Homo sapiens: one gene and its partners. The protein of the gene in region 1 purifies or fractionates together with the protein of each later gene. This does not show direct contact. Each region holds a gene or a part of one and is shown in the gene's direction. Other genes may lie near its edges.

What was found.
Region 2: the proteins of DEF6 (region 1) and SMARCA1 purify together in Homo sapiens (affinity purification with mass spectrometry; 3 studies listed by BioGRID and IntAct, with this or other methods). This does not show direct contact.
Region 3: the proteins of DEF6 (region 1) and C1orf52 purify together in Homo sapiens (affinity purification with mass spectrometry; 3 studies listed by BioGRID and IntAct, with this or other methods). This does not show direct contact.
Region 4: the proteins of DEF6 (region 1) and ARHGAP42 purify together in Homo sapiens (affinity purification with mass spectrometry; 3 studies listed by BioGRID and IntAct, with this or other methods). This does not show direct contact.

What each region holds. Positions count from the first base shown.
Region 1 is NC_000006.12:35,296,579-35,300,617, forward strand, and holds the start of DEF6 (differentially expressed in FDCP 6 homolog), read left to right. Parts: upstream 1-1,239; 5' UTR 1,240-1,278; coding exon 1,279-1,374; intron 1,375-4,039.
Region 2 is NC_000023.11:129,519,868-129,524,825, reverse strand, and holds the start of SMARCA1 (SWI/SNF-related matrix-associated actin-dependent regulator of chromatin subfamily A member 1), read left to right. Parts: upstream 1-1,335; 5' UTR 1,336-1,455; coding exon 1,456-1,629; intron 1,630-4,958.
Region 3 is NC_000001.11:85,252,340-85,256,662, reverse strand, and holds part of C1orf52 (UPF0690 protein C1orf52), read left to right. Parts: intron 1-3,960; coding exon 3,961-4,034; 3' UTR 4,035-4,323.
Region 4 is NC_000011.10:100,973,788-100,978,110, forward strand, and holds part of ARHGAP42 (rho GTPase-activating protein 42), read left to right. Parts: intron 1-671; coding exon 672-816; intron 817-2,269; coding exon 2,270-2,650; intron 2,651-3,027; coding exon 3,028-3,184; intron 3,185-4,323. UniProt on the Homo sapiens protein: May influence blood pressure by functioning as a GTPase-activating protein for RHOA in vascular smooth muscle.

The sequences.
Region 1 (4,039 bases):
CTCCAGGGGGAAGAAGGGATACAGGGGAAGGCACTTGATGGGAAGAAGCTCTGGGTTTGACTCTGCCTACACAGGAACATTGCAGGGATTGGTGGTGCCTCTTTTCCTCTCTCTGCTGTGATGGATATGCCCCAACCCCTTCCTGCCTCCTAGGATTGGAACCCCCTCCTCTGATCCAGGCATCCTCTCCCAGGATGCCTAGAAAGCTCCCATTTACTCTTGCCACCAGCTCCTTGGGAAGAGAGGGGCGGGGGCGTGCTTCCAGGCAGGAGGTATTCCCAGCACCTTACTTGGAGGGATTTTTATTTGGCTTAGGGGGTAGGGGGAGGTGTCTTAGAATTGGCCTGAGCAGATGTCTTCAACATCTGTGACCACCATTCCTGGTGTGGGCGTGTCCCAGTCCTTTTGGACACTGGATCTGAAGAAAGGAAGCACTGACATGGAGGGCCCTGAATCCCAAGCCTGCTGCTGCTGGGACCCTTAAAGTTGAGGTGCACCACAAGGCTCACCCCCATGTGTTTCAGGAAGTTTCCAGTGTCTTCAGGGCTACTGGGGCTAGAGTGGGCAGTGCTCTGAGTACCGTTTAGAGCCAGTGCTGAGGGGATAGGGAGCCAGCAAGTCAAGTGCCACATCCTGACCTGGAGAGGTGCCCTGGCCCATTTCCTTCTCCAGCTTTGTGATGTTGCCTTTGTTTCCTTCCACTTGGATGGAGTCCCACCACCATGGTAATGTTAAGTAGCACCAAAAGCTCTACCCAGAGCCTACTATGTGCTTTACGTCCATTCTCAGACATTCTTACAACACGGAGGCATTTTTCCTGCTTTACAAATGAGGAAACTGCTCAAGGAGGTTAAGTAACTTACCCAAGGCCTCCTATGTTGAACTAGGACTGGACCTTTACTCTGTCTGACCCCAATATCAGGATGAGCTTGCTTTTTCCCTCAGCAAGCTGCGTCTGGGAGCCCTGGAAGGCTCCAGAAGCCTCCGGGTCTGAGGAGGCTTCTAAAAGGGCCTCACATGCCCCGGGAGCCACGTGGATACAGAACGAGGGTTCCCGCTCTCGGAGAGTTGGTCCCCAGTTCCCATGCAGGGAGTGGAGCCTCTGAGCACTGCCAGAACAACAGGCAGGGTTCTCGACAGCACAGAGCCTCACGCAATGTGCAGGCAGGTGGTGCTCTCGCTCCACCACGGCACCTCTGCGGTCTCTGCAGCCGTTTGCATTTCCTGAAACCGGATCTTAGTGTCAGAGCCGCCCCCAGCCGGGCGGGCGCCTCAGCCATGGCCCTGCGCAAGGAACTGCTCAAGTCCATCTGGTACGCCTTTACCGCGCTGGACGTGGAGAAGAGTGGCAAAGTCTCCAAGTCCCAGCTCAAGGTGAGGGGCACCCGGGACCCGGGGGAGGACGGCAGATGCACCACACCAGCCCCTGCCGCCTGGGAGCCAGGTGTGGACACTGTGCCACTCCAGGGGCACCCAGCCATCCAGCGTCCCGGGCCTGGGGTCGGGGGGCTGGTCCTGGGTAACTGGGCCAACGTAGCCTGGTAGATGCCGCTGCCCACCCTCCAGAGACCTAGTGAAGTGTGTGCAGAAACCTTGCGCAGAACTGGGCCCCACAACTGGAGGCCAGGAGGTTCTGAGGGCCATTATGGGGTTCTGAGGGCCAGGAGCCAGGCCACATCCCAGACTCTGTGTGATGAGCACACACACCTCCACAGAGTCATGCTTGGGCACGCAGTGTGCTCTTTCTTGCTGCTTCCTCCTGACTTTCAAGAGAAACAGTTAGCCAGTGCTTGGCAGTCATTTCCTCTGGAGCTGAGAGAGGCATAAAGGGGCCGCCCCCAGTCCCAAACCTGTCTGGCCTGTCTAACCCTGCCCGCCAGGTGGGACAGAGCTGCGGAGTGGGTGAGGACTGAGGACCCTATTATACTGCTACGCAGCTCACCCCCCTATCCACCACACATATCAGGTTGGGAAACTTACCTTAGGCCTTGAGACCTCAGGTAGGGAAGGGGGAGAATCTAAGCCCAGGAAAATCCCAATCAATGATTGTCCTGAAGTCAATCATCTGGCCTAGACAATTTCTGGGAGGCCAAGGAGTTTTTCTCTCTCTTCCTCTAGTCCTCCAGTAGTGCTGCCTTCCCTACCCTAGTTAGTGGGGAGGAAGCAAGGCCCTCAGCCACTAGAATCAGCGAACACTGGGGGAAAGGAGCAAGGTAGGCCTCAGCTCTCTAGGACCTGCCATAGGGGTGCCTTCGTTCACTCTGCAAGTACTTGAGTGCCCCTCGTGAGGCTCTGTGCCTGGCATGTGGCTAGGCACTAAACTGGTGTCTCCCTGCCCCATCCTCCAAAGGAGACGTGTGGTCTCAAGGAAACCTCCATTCTTAATGACCGAGGTAGAGGGTGCTGGATACCTGAGAGATGAATGGGACAGAACAGTTATTGTGCCCCACCACCGTTCCAACCCCCTACTTTACTGAACTTGGATGTGAGGAACTTGAATATCCCAAACTGGTCCTATGTTAAATTCCTTACCTGGATTTGTGAGCATCTAATAGATGATTTCACTCCCCCAGGAAGGAGAGCCCACTACTATCTTTTGTCACCTAGGGAGAACCTCCTAACAGGCAGATTCTTCCTTACATCCTATTTAAATCTCTTGTATTGCAGATCATGTCATTTGGTTGGGTCCTCAGTATAAATGGAAAAAAGTCGATCATCCAAAATCCATTTCTGCAAACTCTGTGTCCCACCCCTACCTCCCACCCTGTCCCTTTAATATCTTGCCAGACAATACCAGCCCCCGTGGCTTTTTGCTTCCAGGGTAACATTTTCCACTTCTGTATTACCTGTGGCCACTGAGACCTCTCCAGGCTCTCTCTGCCCTTCACATGGAAAGTACAGCCTTTAAGTGGCTCCCCTTTTCCTGGTGCCATCAGCCAGTAAAGCCTCCTAGCTTGAGCCTCTGTCTTGCCCTCTAAAAGGGCCACTACCCACTCCCTCATCCCCACAGGTTGCGTATTTCTAGGGAAATACTCCATGGAGAGCTTGCATGCTTGAACTGTCCACTGTCTGTACCTCATCACAGCTCATATTGAACCTACTGCCAGCAACATCTCTGGTCACACAGGATCAATTATAGAGTTCCCTCCTACTTGACAGAAAACTTGTCAACTCTGGAAACCTGGGCTAACAGTGGGAGTCTCAGGGGCCAAGTGGGGGTGGGGCGGAAATGGCGGGGCTCCTTTCAAGCCCATAATAGTGAATATTGGAAGAGGAGGAAGTAGTGATAGTGTTGGGGGGCGGGGATTCCAGCAAAGCAAAGGAGTAATAGAGAAGTGGTCAAAAGGCAAAGGAGGAAGCAGACGAGAGAGTTATACAAGCAGGGCCCACCTCTCCCCAGAAAAGACTTGGGGATGAGGGAAAAGACCTTGGAGTCAATCTGGTTTTTTGTTGTTGTTTTAGAGATGAGATCTTGTTCTATCACTCATGCTGGAGTGCAGTGGTGCAGTCATAGCTCACGACAGCCTCAAACTCCTGGGTTCAAGCGATCTTCCTACTTCAGCCTCCTGAGTAGCTGGGACTACAGGCACATGCCACCACGCCTGGCTAATTTTTTTATTTTTTATTTTTTAGAGCCTGAGTCTCATTATGTTGCCCCGGCTGGTTTCAGACTTCTGGCCTCAAGTGATCCTCTGGCTTCTGCCTCCTGAGTAGCTGGAATTATAGTCTTGAGCCACCTCACTGGGCTGGTTACTAAAACCATCCCTAGCGTTAGGGTCCTGGGTTGGAACCTGGCAAGAGACCTGCACTAGCCCAGGGCAAGATGTGTCGGTGCGTGACATTTGCCACTTCTCCCCTAATGTGTTGGTAGACGGGCTCCCAGTGGCTGTCCTGGGCAAACCCACGATGAGGCCAGAGGGTAGGAGGAAGAACAGCACGTCCTCTGAGAAAAGCCCAAGGAGTAGGGTTGTTTCTCCTGGAAAAGAGAAGGCTTGAGGGAAAAACCAGATACTTCTTTCTCTCTTTGAATTCTTGTAGA
Region 2 (4,958 bases), on another chromosome or scaffold:
TTTAGGGTGTCCATTGCCTCAAGTATTTATCATTTCTATGTGTTGGGAACATTTCATGTCCTCTCTTCTAGCTATTTCGAAATATACATTGCATTGTTTGTTCAGTAGAGTCACCCTACTCTACTTTGAACATTATAACTTATTCCTTCCATCTAACTGTATATTTGTACTCATTAACTGACCTCTCTTCATTGATCCGCCTCAACCCCACACACCCTTCCCAGACTTCTGGTACCTATCATTCTACTCTCTACCTCCATGAGATCAACTTTTTAGCTCCCACATATGAGTGAGAACATGTGTTATTTGTCTTTCTGTGCCTGGCTTATTTTGTGCAACATAATAAACATCAGTTTCATTTATGTTGCTGCAAATGACATTTCATTCTTTTTTATGGCTACATAGTATTCCATTGTGTATACAGACCACATTTTCCTTAACCATTCACCTGCTGATGGACACTGATTGATTCTGTATCACGAAATGATTTTATATCCATGATCATTCATATTATGTGTTGTATTATTACCAAATAATAATGGAGGTGCAAATAGAACCTGTGCCAAAAAATCACAGTAATTCATTTCAATTGCTAATATTGAGTGCCTACCACATGTTGCCCCAGGTTCGGTGGGTAACCTTGTCCCCTAGGAATTTAAAAATGCAGTGGTGAAGGTAAGAGAAGTGTTCCTGCACATTGGCTACCTGAGAGGTACCAGAGGTGAAAATAGAGCAAATATACGTAAAACTTGAGAGTCAGACTTTGCCTTGTAAGTGAATGTGTTTGCAGCTGCAATCAAGAGATTCAAGGAGTGCTTCTCTTTGTGCAGAATTTAGGAAGGTGGAAACAGCACCGCTAATCCTACCTCTTTAGGGATCCGGGAAAGGGCAGTCCCAGAGGGGTTCCGCGCTTTGCAAATGGTGAAAAAGACCTTCTACAGTACAGTTAGGAGCAGAGGAAAAGTTCTTTGTGCAAGAAGGGGAGAGCGCCCCGAGGTACAAAGAGCAGATTTAAGGGAAAGAGGATTCGTTCTGCACGCATCTGCGAGGGGAGCTCAGGCTCACTGTTGGGGGCGTGTGGGAAAGGAGATTTTCAGGGGGCCGCGAGTTGTGGGTTCCCGCCTCCACCCCTGTCCGCGCCCCACACTCAGGCAACAGTTGGTCGTGCGGGGCCGGCCCGGGCTCTGGGTGGGGAAGGGGAGTCTCGCGATCGTTGAGGGGGGGGGGGTGGAGGAAGGGGGGAGAGTGACGGGGGGAGGCCATGACGTAGGGTGGGTGGACGGAAGTGGGGCAGGGTTGAGGGTTATTTAAAGAAGGGGGGGCCTGAGCGAAGGGGTTGGAAGCGGAGTGATTCCCCACCCCTGCTCCATCTAGCTCTTTCCAGTGCAGCCACTGCCGCCGCCCAGGAGCCCTCGTCCCCTGCCTTGTCCCCCTACTCGTTCCCGCTCCCACGGCATGGAGCAGGACACTGCCGCAGTGGCAGCCACCGTGGCAGCCGCGGATGCGACCGCCACTATCGTGGTCATAGAGGACGAGCAGCCCGGGCCGTCCACCTCTCAGGAGGAGGGAGCGGCCGCCGCGGCCACCGAAGCCACCGCGGCCACGGAGAAGGGCGAGAAGAAGAAGGAGGTAAATAGGAAGGGGGTGTGTGTGTGGTGGACAAATCCTGTGCCTGGCCCCTCTGAGGGGCCCAAACCCTGACCTTTCGGCGCCGACAGGTACCCGCGGAGCTTTGCGGGGCTAGGGGCGGCGGGTGCGGGGGTCGGCGGCGGAACCGCCTGGCGTTCGCTCCCCTCCCCCTTTCCTTCTCGCCGCCTGGAGGACGGGGGCGGGGCTGGGCGCGGGCGGGAGCGGCGCGGGGTGGAGGGGTGCCCGCTCTCCCGGGGCCTGGGGGCTCGGGAGCCCCTCGACAGCCCCCGACCCCCTCCACCTTCCCGGAACTCGGGTAACGGGGTGGGGGATGGGGCTGTGCAGGAAAAAGCCTCCGCCTCTCCCTCTCCTCTCGCTCGCTCCCTCTCCCCCCGCCTTCCCGTCGGCCTCTGCCTGGGAAATCTGGGCCCTTCAATCCCACACTCGCGCTAAAGGGGTTTTGCTGGGGCTTTTTTTGTAATTTGAATTTCAAGGTGCTGGTGGTTGCTGGGTGGAGGGTGACAGGGAAGACATTTCTTTCTTTCATTGGCAATGTCGGTCTTTTGGATGGCAGGAAAAAAACCATCCCTTGTTCGTTTGAACCCCGCCTGCCGAGGTGGGGGTGTCACCCCGAGGAAAGGAGCTCTCTGCGTCGTACCCCCCCGCCCCCCCAAACTGAGGAACCGTGGACGCTGGCTTAGGAAAATTTCCAACATCTGCACCCTCACCCTCTTCTGCCCCGCCCCCGACGGTATAGGGTTTCACTCCAGGGCCACCCCAATGGTCCCTCAATCCGGCCCCAAGCTTTCCAGGCTTCCGCCTCCCTCTCCTAGTGGGCGCTGCTGGCTCCTGGACACACACAGGTTTTTTTTTTTTTTCTCCTTTAATTTTTAAAAAACTCAGCGTCGCCAAGATGAGCTGCTTCTAACGTAAGGGAACTGCTCTGACACATATTAAAGCCAATCCAGAAAATATGTATTATCTCCATAAGGCACATTTCGTGTGGCCCGAGACATGCAAATAAAACTATAAAACGTTGAAAAATTGACATAAAAATAGGATGGGGCATAAGCATTTTTGATGTATGATAAAATTGCATAACTAATGGTTTATGTGTGGATTTTTTCCTATTTACGAGTAGTCATATCGCAATTTTAAAAAGGTGGGTAATTATGCTTTAGAGATCTCAAGTGGCTTTGTCTGAATCATTATATGATACTATACGACCAAATGAAAAGCTTTTGAGGAAAATGAACACCTTTCGCCTTAAATGAGAAGAGTAATTTTAAATTTAGCAGTTGCTTCTGTGACATATTTTACTATTACAAGGTTGACTAAACAGAAGGACAATTGTAGTGCTAAATGAAAACCGTAGAAAACATACACATTGTAAGATCTACGCGGTACTTGGATTAGTAAGACAATATTGTTGGTTAAAAGTGGGTGTAATACCAAGCATCAATATAAATCAAATGTTGTGAAATTCGGAAATGTCTGTGTGCCTTTTATTCCCTGGACTGGGCAAATGTGAGTGCCAAACTGCCTTTTGTATGGCAGGAGAGGTTGTCGAATTTCCAGATTGTATAAATTTTTGAATTTTGTATAAAATTTTGTATTGTGAAAAAACGGGAGACCAATAAAAAAGCTATATAATATAAACACTGAGTTGATGCCTACATATTTGTCAACTCTTGCCTCATTAGAAATTGCCCTACCAGTACTTCATTTGTCCACCCAGGACAGGGAAATGAGGTGCTGTATGTCAGGAACTTCCTGGATATCCATTTTTATTTTTAATTTTTCCTTAAAAAATGAAATACATTACATACTACCTTGACACTTTAAATTGCATACTAAAAGTGCAGATTAACCTCTTCTTCATGGCCATCAGTTAGTGTACTTTGACAGTGACACAAAGGCACCTGAAATCCCGCAGGTTGTTCCCTCTCAATTAAGTAACCACCTACCAGACTCTTGCAGTGTTGTGTTGATTTTTAAAAATAATTTTTCCAGCCGGGCGCGGTGGCTCGCGCCTGTAATCCTAGCACTTTGGGAGGCCGAGGCGGGTAGATCACTTGAGGTCAGGAGTTCGAAACCAGCCTGGCCAATATGGTGAAACCCCGTCTCTACTAAAAATACCAAAAAAAAAAAATTAGCCAAGTGTGGTGGCAGGCACCTGTAATCCCAGCTACTTGGGAGGCTGAGGCAGGAGAATCGCTTGAACCCGGAAGGCTCAGGTTGCAGTGAGCCGAGATCCCACCACTGCACTCCAACCTGAGCAACAGAGTGAGACTCCGTCTCAAAATAAATAAATAAATAAAAATTTTCTGTCTTCTTCCTTAATTGCCAGGCTGTTAGCGATCACTTTTTAAACACCTCTAGTTTCACCAGAAATAATATGTTAGTTTATGATAAAGATTATAGGTGTAACAAAACCATAAACTCATTTGAAAACCACTGTAAAATACAAAAGTGTCAGTGATAAAACAGGGAGAGGGAAATAATGACACGTGCACACCAAGAATCAGTGATGCTACTGCAGTGGAAGACATTTTCGTCCTTGGTTTCTGCCGTGTCTTCTTGTAGAGTGCCTTCATCTAGTGATCTTTCCATGTCATTTACTGTTGCTTGTATTCTCGGTGACATGGGAAGCCAGATTTTCAAACTTGGTGGAATTGTCTACCAAATAAAAAGAAAATAGGTTTCTGAATGAGAGCGCTTTCATGATGAATACAGTAGATGAGAATTAGTGAATTGACCTGTGACATTTACCTACTCAAAGGTGTTTTTGCTTACTTTCTGGTTGTTGAATTTAGTTGGTTTAAGTGACGGTTGGATTACCCAACACTGTAGACATGAAAACGTCAAGAAAAAGGTCATGGTCTTTAAAACAAGCCATTTTGTTGACCTTGTGCTGCATTCTCATGGCACCTAGACTCAGATAACAAAATCCAAAGGAATTCATTAGAGTCTCTTAGTCACTTTTCATCTTTTCTTGTATGAAAAAAATGTAGTTTTGAGAATACACACACACACACACACACACACACACACACACGAGAGAAGGTTTAGAAGGTAGGTATTTTAAAATTTGTTGTGGAAGATAGTGCCAATTAAGTAATTACCCACAGCTTTTAATAGCCCTGCTCAAGATTAGGATTTTAATTAGCATATAATTAGATTTTGATGGTAGTCTACCGCAAGGTAAGCAAAAAAGTAATGGGTAAAATGTTTTTCTAGGATTAAAGCTTTAATTTTCTGTAAGTGTACTTCCCACATTATTATATATATTTGTGCGTATGAGGCAAAGTAATTTTCATTGTTTTGAT
Region 3 (4,323 bases), on another chromosome or scaffold:
CACACCCAGCTAATTTTTTGTATTTTTAGTAGAGACGGGGTTTCACCGTGTTAGCCAGGATGGTCTGGATCTCCTGACCTCGTGATCTGCCCGCCTTGGCCTCCCAAAGTGCTGGGATTACAGGCGTGAGCCACCGTGCCCGGCCATTCCTTTTCATAATTAGTAAAAATATATTTGCTTAAATAATCTTTATTACAACACCTTGTGAAATAAGATAGAGAAATGTGGAAATGATAGCTTACATAACTTGTCCAAGGTCACAAACTAGAAAATGCCAAATTCTAAAATAGGCACTTTCACACAGTTTTCTAATTTATTACTCCGAGCAACCTGATACAGAAGTGCTACATGACTCATTATTACTGTTTTACAGATGATAAAACAATCTGAGATTAGGGACTTTACCCAAATTCATTCACGCAGCTAAAGAAGAGACAGAGTAGTAGGCATTCAAATCCAGACCTTTAAATAGAAATTATGCCTTATTAAACTGGGATTTGGTCTCCTGATGAATAGCCATTTCTCAACAGTGAGATATAGCTATTCTTCTGTAGGGCGAATGGCAGTAAAGATACTAGGGTTGATACTCAAACTAGATTTCCATAGGCTGGTGCTCTCACATCTTTGTAGTTATATGGAAAAAACCAGGATTATACACCAGGGCAAGCAAGCAAGAAAGAATTATCTTTTTCTAGCTTAGCTTTTGAGTTAAGTTAGAAGGAGTTCCAAATATGTGGCAGGTAACACTGCTATTCACATAGATAATTTCTGTCTTTTTGATCACATGATGGTCCTTTATTGGAAAACAAATACAGGCAAAATCAAATAACAGACCCATTTTTTAGAAGTGATTTTCAGATTCCTATAAAATCAATTATGTCATAATTTTTTAGCCTTTCTTTTTCATTCATAAAATATATATCAGAAACTCTACACTCTTACCCAGATTTTAGATTAGCAAGTGACTTTTTTATTTTGCTTCCCCATTCTGCCCTTTGGCCTTTTATTGCCGGTTAACGTCTTCCAGTTACTTTAGAGGAAGGGCTGGGAAAGGTTCAGAACTCATCATTGGGTCTTGCTGCTTATCAGCCCTTCGGGTTTTTTTTTTTTTTTGAGATGGAGTCTCGCTCTGTCGCCCAGGCTGGAGTGCAGTGGTGTGATCTCGGCTCACTGCAACCTCCGCCTCCCGGGTTCAAGCGATTCTCCTGCCTCAGCCTGCCAAGTAGCTGGGACTACAGGCACACGCCACCACGCCCAGCTAATTTTTGTATTTTTAGTGGAGATGGGGTTTCAGCATGTTGGCCAGGGTGGTCTCGATCTCCTGACCTCGTGATCCGCCCGCTTCAGCCTCCCAAAGTGCTGGGATTACAGGTGTGAGCCACCGCACCCTGCCACTTCTGGTTTTAGTGGTTGTAAAATGTAGGTAAGCAAAGCTTAGTTATTAGTTGTAGCTTTATTGACATGTATAATAATTAATTGTAAAAGCATAATTAATATAGTGATTTTTAGTTTACACTTTTTAGAATTTAGAAAGTTTGTCTATTGATAAGTTAAACTTACTTGAGTGATTTGAGTTCCATAATAAAAAAATTGTTTCCTTACCAGTACATCTATACTATATGAGACCGAGTAAAAAAGCTCAGTAAAATTGATAAATGAACATTGCTCAGATTTTTTCCTACTCTAGTTTATAAAGCAATGCCTTGTCATGACACTAGATGGCATAGCACTTCTGCTCAAATCACTGATAGCCAGTTACTTTTTAACTTCAGTAGTTTGTGGTTTTGTTATTCAGTTAATTTACTTGTAATAAGTGGCAAATTAAAAGCAAAAATATCTCAGTATCATCTAAATGTATGCTAATGCATAGTGAATATTATAGTAAACTTAGTACTTTCCATTTTTATATTATCACTACTGAAAATCTCAAAAGAGGAGCTTAGTGATAATTAACTCGTTAAAAAGCAAAAGGTGCCGGGTGCGGTGGCTCACGCCTGTAATCCCAGCACTTTGGGAGGCCGAGGTGGGTGGATCACGAGGTCAGGAGATAGAGACCATCCTGGTTAACACCGTGAAACCCCGTCTCTACTAAAAATACAAAAAATTAGCTGGGTGTGATGGCAGGCACCTGTAGTCCCAGCTGCTTGGGAGGCTGAGGCAGGAGAATGGCGTGAACCTGGGAGGTGGAGATTACAATGAGCTGAGATGGTGCCACTGCACTCCATCCTGGGCAACAGAGCAAGACTCCATCTCAAAAAAAAAAAAAAGCAAAACGTTTGGCTTGTTTTGGTGGTATACCATGTTATTTGGTTTGTGGAGCCAGTGTTTTTGTATGAACATGATGAACTACTGATTAAAACTTTGATTTGTAAATTCCTGGGGTGAGTTGATCTGAATTGTATTTTATTCCACTGCCTACATAAATCCATAGTGCTCTGTGAAGCATATGAATAACATCACCGTGCTGTGCTTGAAGGGGAGTGAAGATGAATGGTATTGATTGTTATCTGCATCAATAAATGAGATATTCTGATTATGGTACAGTCAGCAGAAGGGAATTGAAGGCTTAAGATTTTAATATTTCCTTCAAGGAATTTATGATTTGATGTCAGTAGTTCCTCACATTTTTTAATAATGAAGGCTCCTTTCAATATCAAGATATTTTATAGATCTCCACATGATAACCTGTTGAACTTTTTGAGTATCTGTTGATCAAGAAAATAAAGTCAAAAGCTACAATTAATTAGTAATGTGCTCAAAATAAATTTGTATTTTATAAATCATAACATCTTTTCCATGTTACTCTGTCTATATGGAGTTCTTAATACCACACATTTGCTTAGGGAGATGGAATTAGCAACTAGTCTGTGCTACCCTGTATTTTTTTTTTAACCATGTAGTTGGATTTTTTAAAATACAATAAAAGAGTTCACTTTTCCAGGTTTGACAACATTTTTATGAATTGGAAATTTTCTGTGGCTACAGATACTATTAACATTTTGGAAAGGTGTAAAGAACATTGTTTTAATGTAAGGCTCTTCTCTAACCTCCCTCCCCTCTCCAAATTCTCCATAATATGAAGTAGGAAGATATGTATTTTTCTGTTGCCATTAAAATGTTCTGGCCATCGTGGGAGTGGGGATGGGGAGGGCGGGGATGGGAATTAGAACTTACTAGAATAAAATTCCAAATAGAGGTTTGGGGAAACCTACTTGTGAGTGCTTTTTAACCTCAAAATAAGGATTTGGGGTGGGTGGAGAAGGTGATGGGGCAGAAGAAGTTGTTTTTGGAGGAGAGAAAGCAGATTGAAAGGAAAAGGACAGCTGATAGCCACTTAAATAATGTCATCGTTAGAGTGATACCTATTTTTTGTAAAAAGAAAACAATATGCTCCATTCTTACAAAGCATTGATTGTATTTTAATATATACAATGTAAATACTATCATGCAGTGGTGTCCAAGGGAGAGAATACAGTCATGAGTTCTTAGTTTCTGTTATTGGTTGGGCCAATAAAGCCCCTTCATCATCCTTCTTTTCTGCTTATCACTAGAGACAGAAACTAAAAACCATGGCTTCAGGCTGCTAAAAGCCTAAAACAAAACAGAACAACAACAACAAATAAGGCAGGTTGGACAAGCTTGCTGAGTATTTGGGAGCCTTTTTCAAAAGTCTGATTTGGGGGAAGTAAAGTCACTTATTTTAAGCTACCTTAGTATAGCACCTAAAGAGTTACTTTGTGAATTTTGTATGGCTGCAATTGAAAAAAAAAATTGCTCACTTTCACTTGCATTTAAAAATCAGAGCTCTAAAAGTTAATTCTTGTTTTTTATTGGGAAACTCTGAGAGAAACATTAATTGATGAGGGTAATAATTTTGGTATAAAGCCAGTGAAATTTTAATGCTTAACATGTTGGGTTTTTTAAAATTACTGATTGAAACTCTTCCTTTTCTATTTAAAGATGATGAAAAAGATGAGCATACTTCTAAAAAGCGCAAAGTAGAGCCAGGAGAACCAGCAAAGAAGAAAAAGTAGAAACAAATGACCAGAATTTCTGTACTGCTAAACTTGTTGAAATGTTTCTTTGGACAGATTAAGTTGATATTGTGGGTTATTATGCCACATCTCCATGAAAATGCATACGTTAATGAACTAATAAGTATTGCCTCAAGAACTTTCCACTATAGAATTCTTTTTTTATTTAAAACATGTATGTATTTAAAACTCAACTGGTGACTTGTGATTGTGAAATTGATAACACTTGGATGCATTCTTGCTCTCACAGAATTGGTGACATGCTTTGAGAGTTTTGTCACATGTTGAC
Region 4 (4,323 bases), on another chromosome or scaffold:
TGGGAAATTTTGAAAGCTGAATTAGTTGGAGTATTAAGCAAATTGAACCATTTAAGGTCTAACAATTTGTAATCCTTTTATCTCTGATCTGGTCCTTGTGAGAGAATGATTAAGGCCTTCTCCTCCCCTGGGTCCCTTCCCAGCACCCACAGAAGCATGCCCTTAGTGTCTATCTAAGGGCACAAGCTCTCTCACAATGCAAGAGCACATGGCTGTGTCCTGTAGCTCTGCACATACCTTAACCTGCAGCTAGCCACACTCCTTGGCAGCTCAGAGCCAACAGCATGGCAGCATCTTCTCCTGAGAAGCAAGGAGCCATTCAGTGGGAGAAATGATATAGAGTGAGCCTCAGCTCTTCTCAGGTTATGTTTTTTCAGAGTATGAAGGTGGAAAGAGAGTATTACAATAAAAACCATCAATATGTCTTGTTCATATTTGGAAGGTTTCTTAAAGTTATTGAAAGATCTTCTAGATTTTACTTTTGGGAAATGGGAGAGAATAAAAAAGAAAACCCCGTGAAAGAATACTCCAGATAAATGGAAAAGTTACAATTGCTCTAGGATACTTATATTTTGCAGCTGATTAAGTAGCATATGGTTCAAAGCTTATTTTATAATGAAAGTGGCAATATCACCCTTTTATTGACCTTGGTCCATTTTTCTTATACGTAGATTTTTCATACTGCTCCAGACCCAAGCATTCCTCTTCCTCAGCCTCAGTCTCGATCTGGATCCCGAAGGACACGAGCAATCTGCCTCTCTACAGGGTCTAGGAAGCCCAGAGGGAGGTATACTCCATGCCTGGCCGAACCTGATAGTAAGTGCACCCGGCCTTAGGGAGATGCTTTCTTCATTCTTTGGTTCAGATGTATTTCACTGTATTGGTAATTAGGTAGAAATAGAAGATGTTCTCACTGATGCTCTTTCCCCAACACCTCCTCTTTTATCATTTGTATATTCTCTGTCAATAGTTGTACAGTTGCTTGGGTAAGCAAATTCATTATTGATACAAAAAGGAAAAAAAGAAAAAAGGGCTCAAGGCCCTTTTTTCTGCAACTGTGATTAAGTACATTGGGTGCTCCTTTGTAGCAGGTTCTGTCCTATTGTCAAAGTGGTAAAGAAGAAAGCAAGACAAAGTCTGACTGAAGCTGTCATTTTCTTCCTTCCTTTCACATTATGTTCTTAAAGCATTATCTCTTGGGTATCAGTGTCTGAAAGAGAAAAGATAAAAAGAAACAACACACATTATCATCAACTTACAATTCTGAGCCAAGCCCTAAGGTGATGTGGGTGGCATCTTGACACCATGGCACACATTAAACTGTGGCTGTTCTCATTTTATTTTATACCCCCCACCCCAATTTTTTGCTCACAGTCAATATTTAATAGAAAATAGTCAATTATATATTTTAAAATAACTAAAAGAATGTAATTGGATTGTTTGTAACTCAAAGGACAACTGCCTGAGGAGACGGATACTCCATTACCATGATGTGCTTATTTCAAGTTGCACACCTGTATCAAAATATCCTATGTTCTCCACAAATATGCATACCTATTATGTACCCAGAAAAATTTAAAAAAATAGTTTACTAATTTTTAATTTAGATATATGTGAATGCATTATTATGCTTTATCTGATTTTTCTTATAACTTGCTTTTAGGAACATTAGGAAATAAAACCAGCAAAATAGCCAGTTTCTTACATTTCTATATTCTTAGCAGGAAAGGAAAAAAGCCTTTGAAAATTGAGGTACTTGTAATTTACTACTGACATTTAATGGTGCCTTTGAATGAAAGAAGGCTGAGTACTTTGTAACTTGGAATCAATCACCTATGATCAGAAAAGTAAAAGAAAGCAGAAATATGTTTTTACTATACCCCCTTTCATTGATTCCTTGTAATATCATGAAGGAATCTTATTTCTCTTACTTCTGAATCCTGTTTCATAAACAAATTTTGTGGGAATTCAAGTCAACCCACTTATGCTTCAAGAAGTAAAGTTATTATCTAAAGGCAGGTAGTTCATAGGTACATACATAAACTTCCTAAAATAGCATTGAAAAATACGTTTGGCAAGTTCAAATGCATATTTTAAAGCCTTTCTCCAGTACTGAGGACAGTTCTCCGTACTAGGTAGGGGCCTACCACTTTAATGGGGTCAGGTGGCCGCAGAACACATGGTAAGTTGGAGAACAGAAGGGTTTTGGTGATGCTGTTATCAATAGATAGTTACAGTTGCTTTCATCTCTCTCCCTCCTACTCCTTAGGTGACTCCTATAGCAGCAGCCCAGACAGCACACCTATGGGGAGCATTGAGTCACTCTCTTCTCATTCCTCTGAACAAAATAGCACTACAAAGTCAGCTTCCTGCCAGCCCAGGGAGAAATCTGGAGGGATTCCTTGGATTGCAACCCCATCATCTTCCAATGGACAGAAAAGCCTTGGTCTGTGGACAACTAGTCCTGAATCAAGTTCCAGAGAAGATGCAACCAAGACAGATGCAGAATCAGACTGCCAGAGTGTTGCTTCAGTCACTAGCCCAGGAGACGTTTCCCCACCCATAGACCTAGTCAAGAAAGAGCCTTATGGGCTTTCAGGACTGAAAAGAGCTTCTGCTTCTTCTCTCAGATCCATCTCTGCAGCTGAAGGTAAGGCAGAGTGGAACTTGTGCAAGATGTCATTGTCTCAGTGTCACTTGTGCTGGATTATTCAGCATGGTTAAGCAGGGATAAAGTTAATGGTGGAGAAACTAATGATGCTTATCTACTTTTTTCCTGTGCTTGGATTTTACAACCTAGGCACTGTGACATTTTTCCTGAATCTTTCCATGTCTGTGAAGTGATGTCTTTGTAATTATTGTAGATTTTGATCTCCCCAAGTGATGGGTTGCTGTACTCAAAGAACATTCTGTACCTTCCCATTTGGGCTCAGAGAAAAATGCTTCCTTTTGTTATGCACATGTACGTGTTATTGCTATTATGTTGTCTAATAGCACCTTGCCTATTTTCTTGGGCTTTCTTTTTAGGAAACAAGAGCTACAGTGGATCTATTCAAAGCTTAACTTCTGTAGGTTCCAAGGAGACACCCAAAGCTTCACCAAACCCAGACCTGCCTCCGAAAATGTGCAGGAGATTAAGACTAGACACTGCCTCAAGCAATGGCTATCAGCGGCCTGGCTCAGTGTAAGTGAGCGTTTGTATATTTGCTGTGTCTCCCAGGGATACAGAGAGGAGTTGAGTGTTTCAGAAGAACTCTTGGGAATCCCACAAGTTGAATACATTGGGAATACTTTATCTGTAGAGTGGGTACAGTCCACTTCTGTAAGACTCTATTCTTTTCTATGAGTGATGTGGAAGTCTTCGGATATGGACAGAATCTCTCTCACAGGGCAGCACTTCAAGCACTTTCCTTTGAAGCAGAGCTATGACTTAATTTGAGGAAATGAAAACTGATGTATAATACAGTAGTTATAAGCTTTGGAACTAAAAGTGTTCCCATTAAAAGCTAAACATCCATCTCTCCGCTGAAGAGACTGCCACGCATTGACTATAAGCCAGGTCCCTGCTCTCCTCACTGTTTTAAAGCAGCTTCTTTCTCACTTCCATCCTACGCCCGCATACCTGAGTCCTCACTGATTTAAACAAGCTAGTAGAGAATGAGGAATATGCAAGGCAAAAGTGGGTACTTCTCATCAAAGGAAATGATGCAGAACTGTAAAGGCTGGTAGGAGAAGGGTACATAGACATGAGTAGAAAGTGGGTGAAGAAGAACAATGGAAACCTGGCTAAACAAGTAAGCAAAAAAGAGAGATAAAAAGTTTCTCTCCCTTTCATTTTGTTTTCCTGACATTTGCTGAGAATTTCCTAATGCTCTCTGAGCCATTACTGGATGTCTTTACATGAGTTATCTCTTTTAAGGTCTGCAGTGTCCTTTGGAAATGGGTAGTATAAACCACATTTTAGAGATGACGAGAACTGATGCTTTTCTACCGTTTCCAACCTAGGGTTCTCTGACTACAATTCTGTGCTCCTTCTGTTTTACCTTCTCCATTTTTAATATGATGGCATTCTTCCTGACATTTTAATTATTCATTAAAAGTCCAGTAAGACATTTTACTAAGCCTGTTTCTATAGGAACTGTGTCATAAATTCATTAGTTCATCCTTTTCTCTGACAGGAACCTTTTGGTTGCAGAGCATGTTCAATGTACCTTATCTCTTTTGGTTAGAAATCCAGTTACAGTGGTATAGGCAAATATATTTGTCAGTGTGTCTACTCCCCACTGTGTGTAGTTCTGCCCATTAAGGGAAAGAAATGTTAAG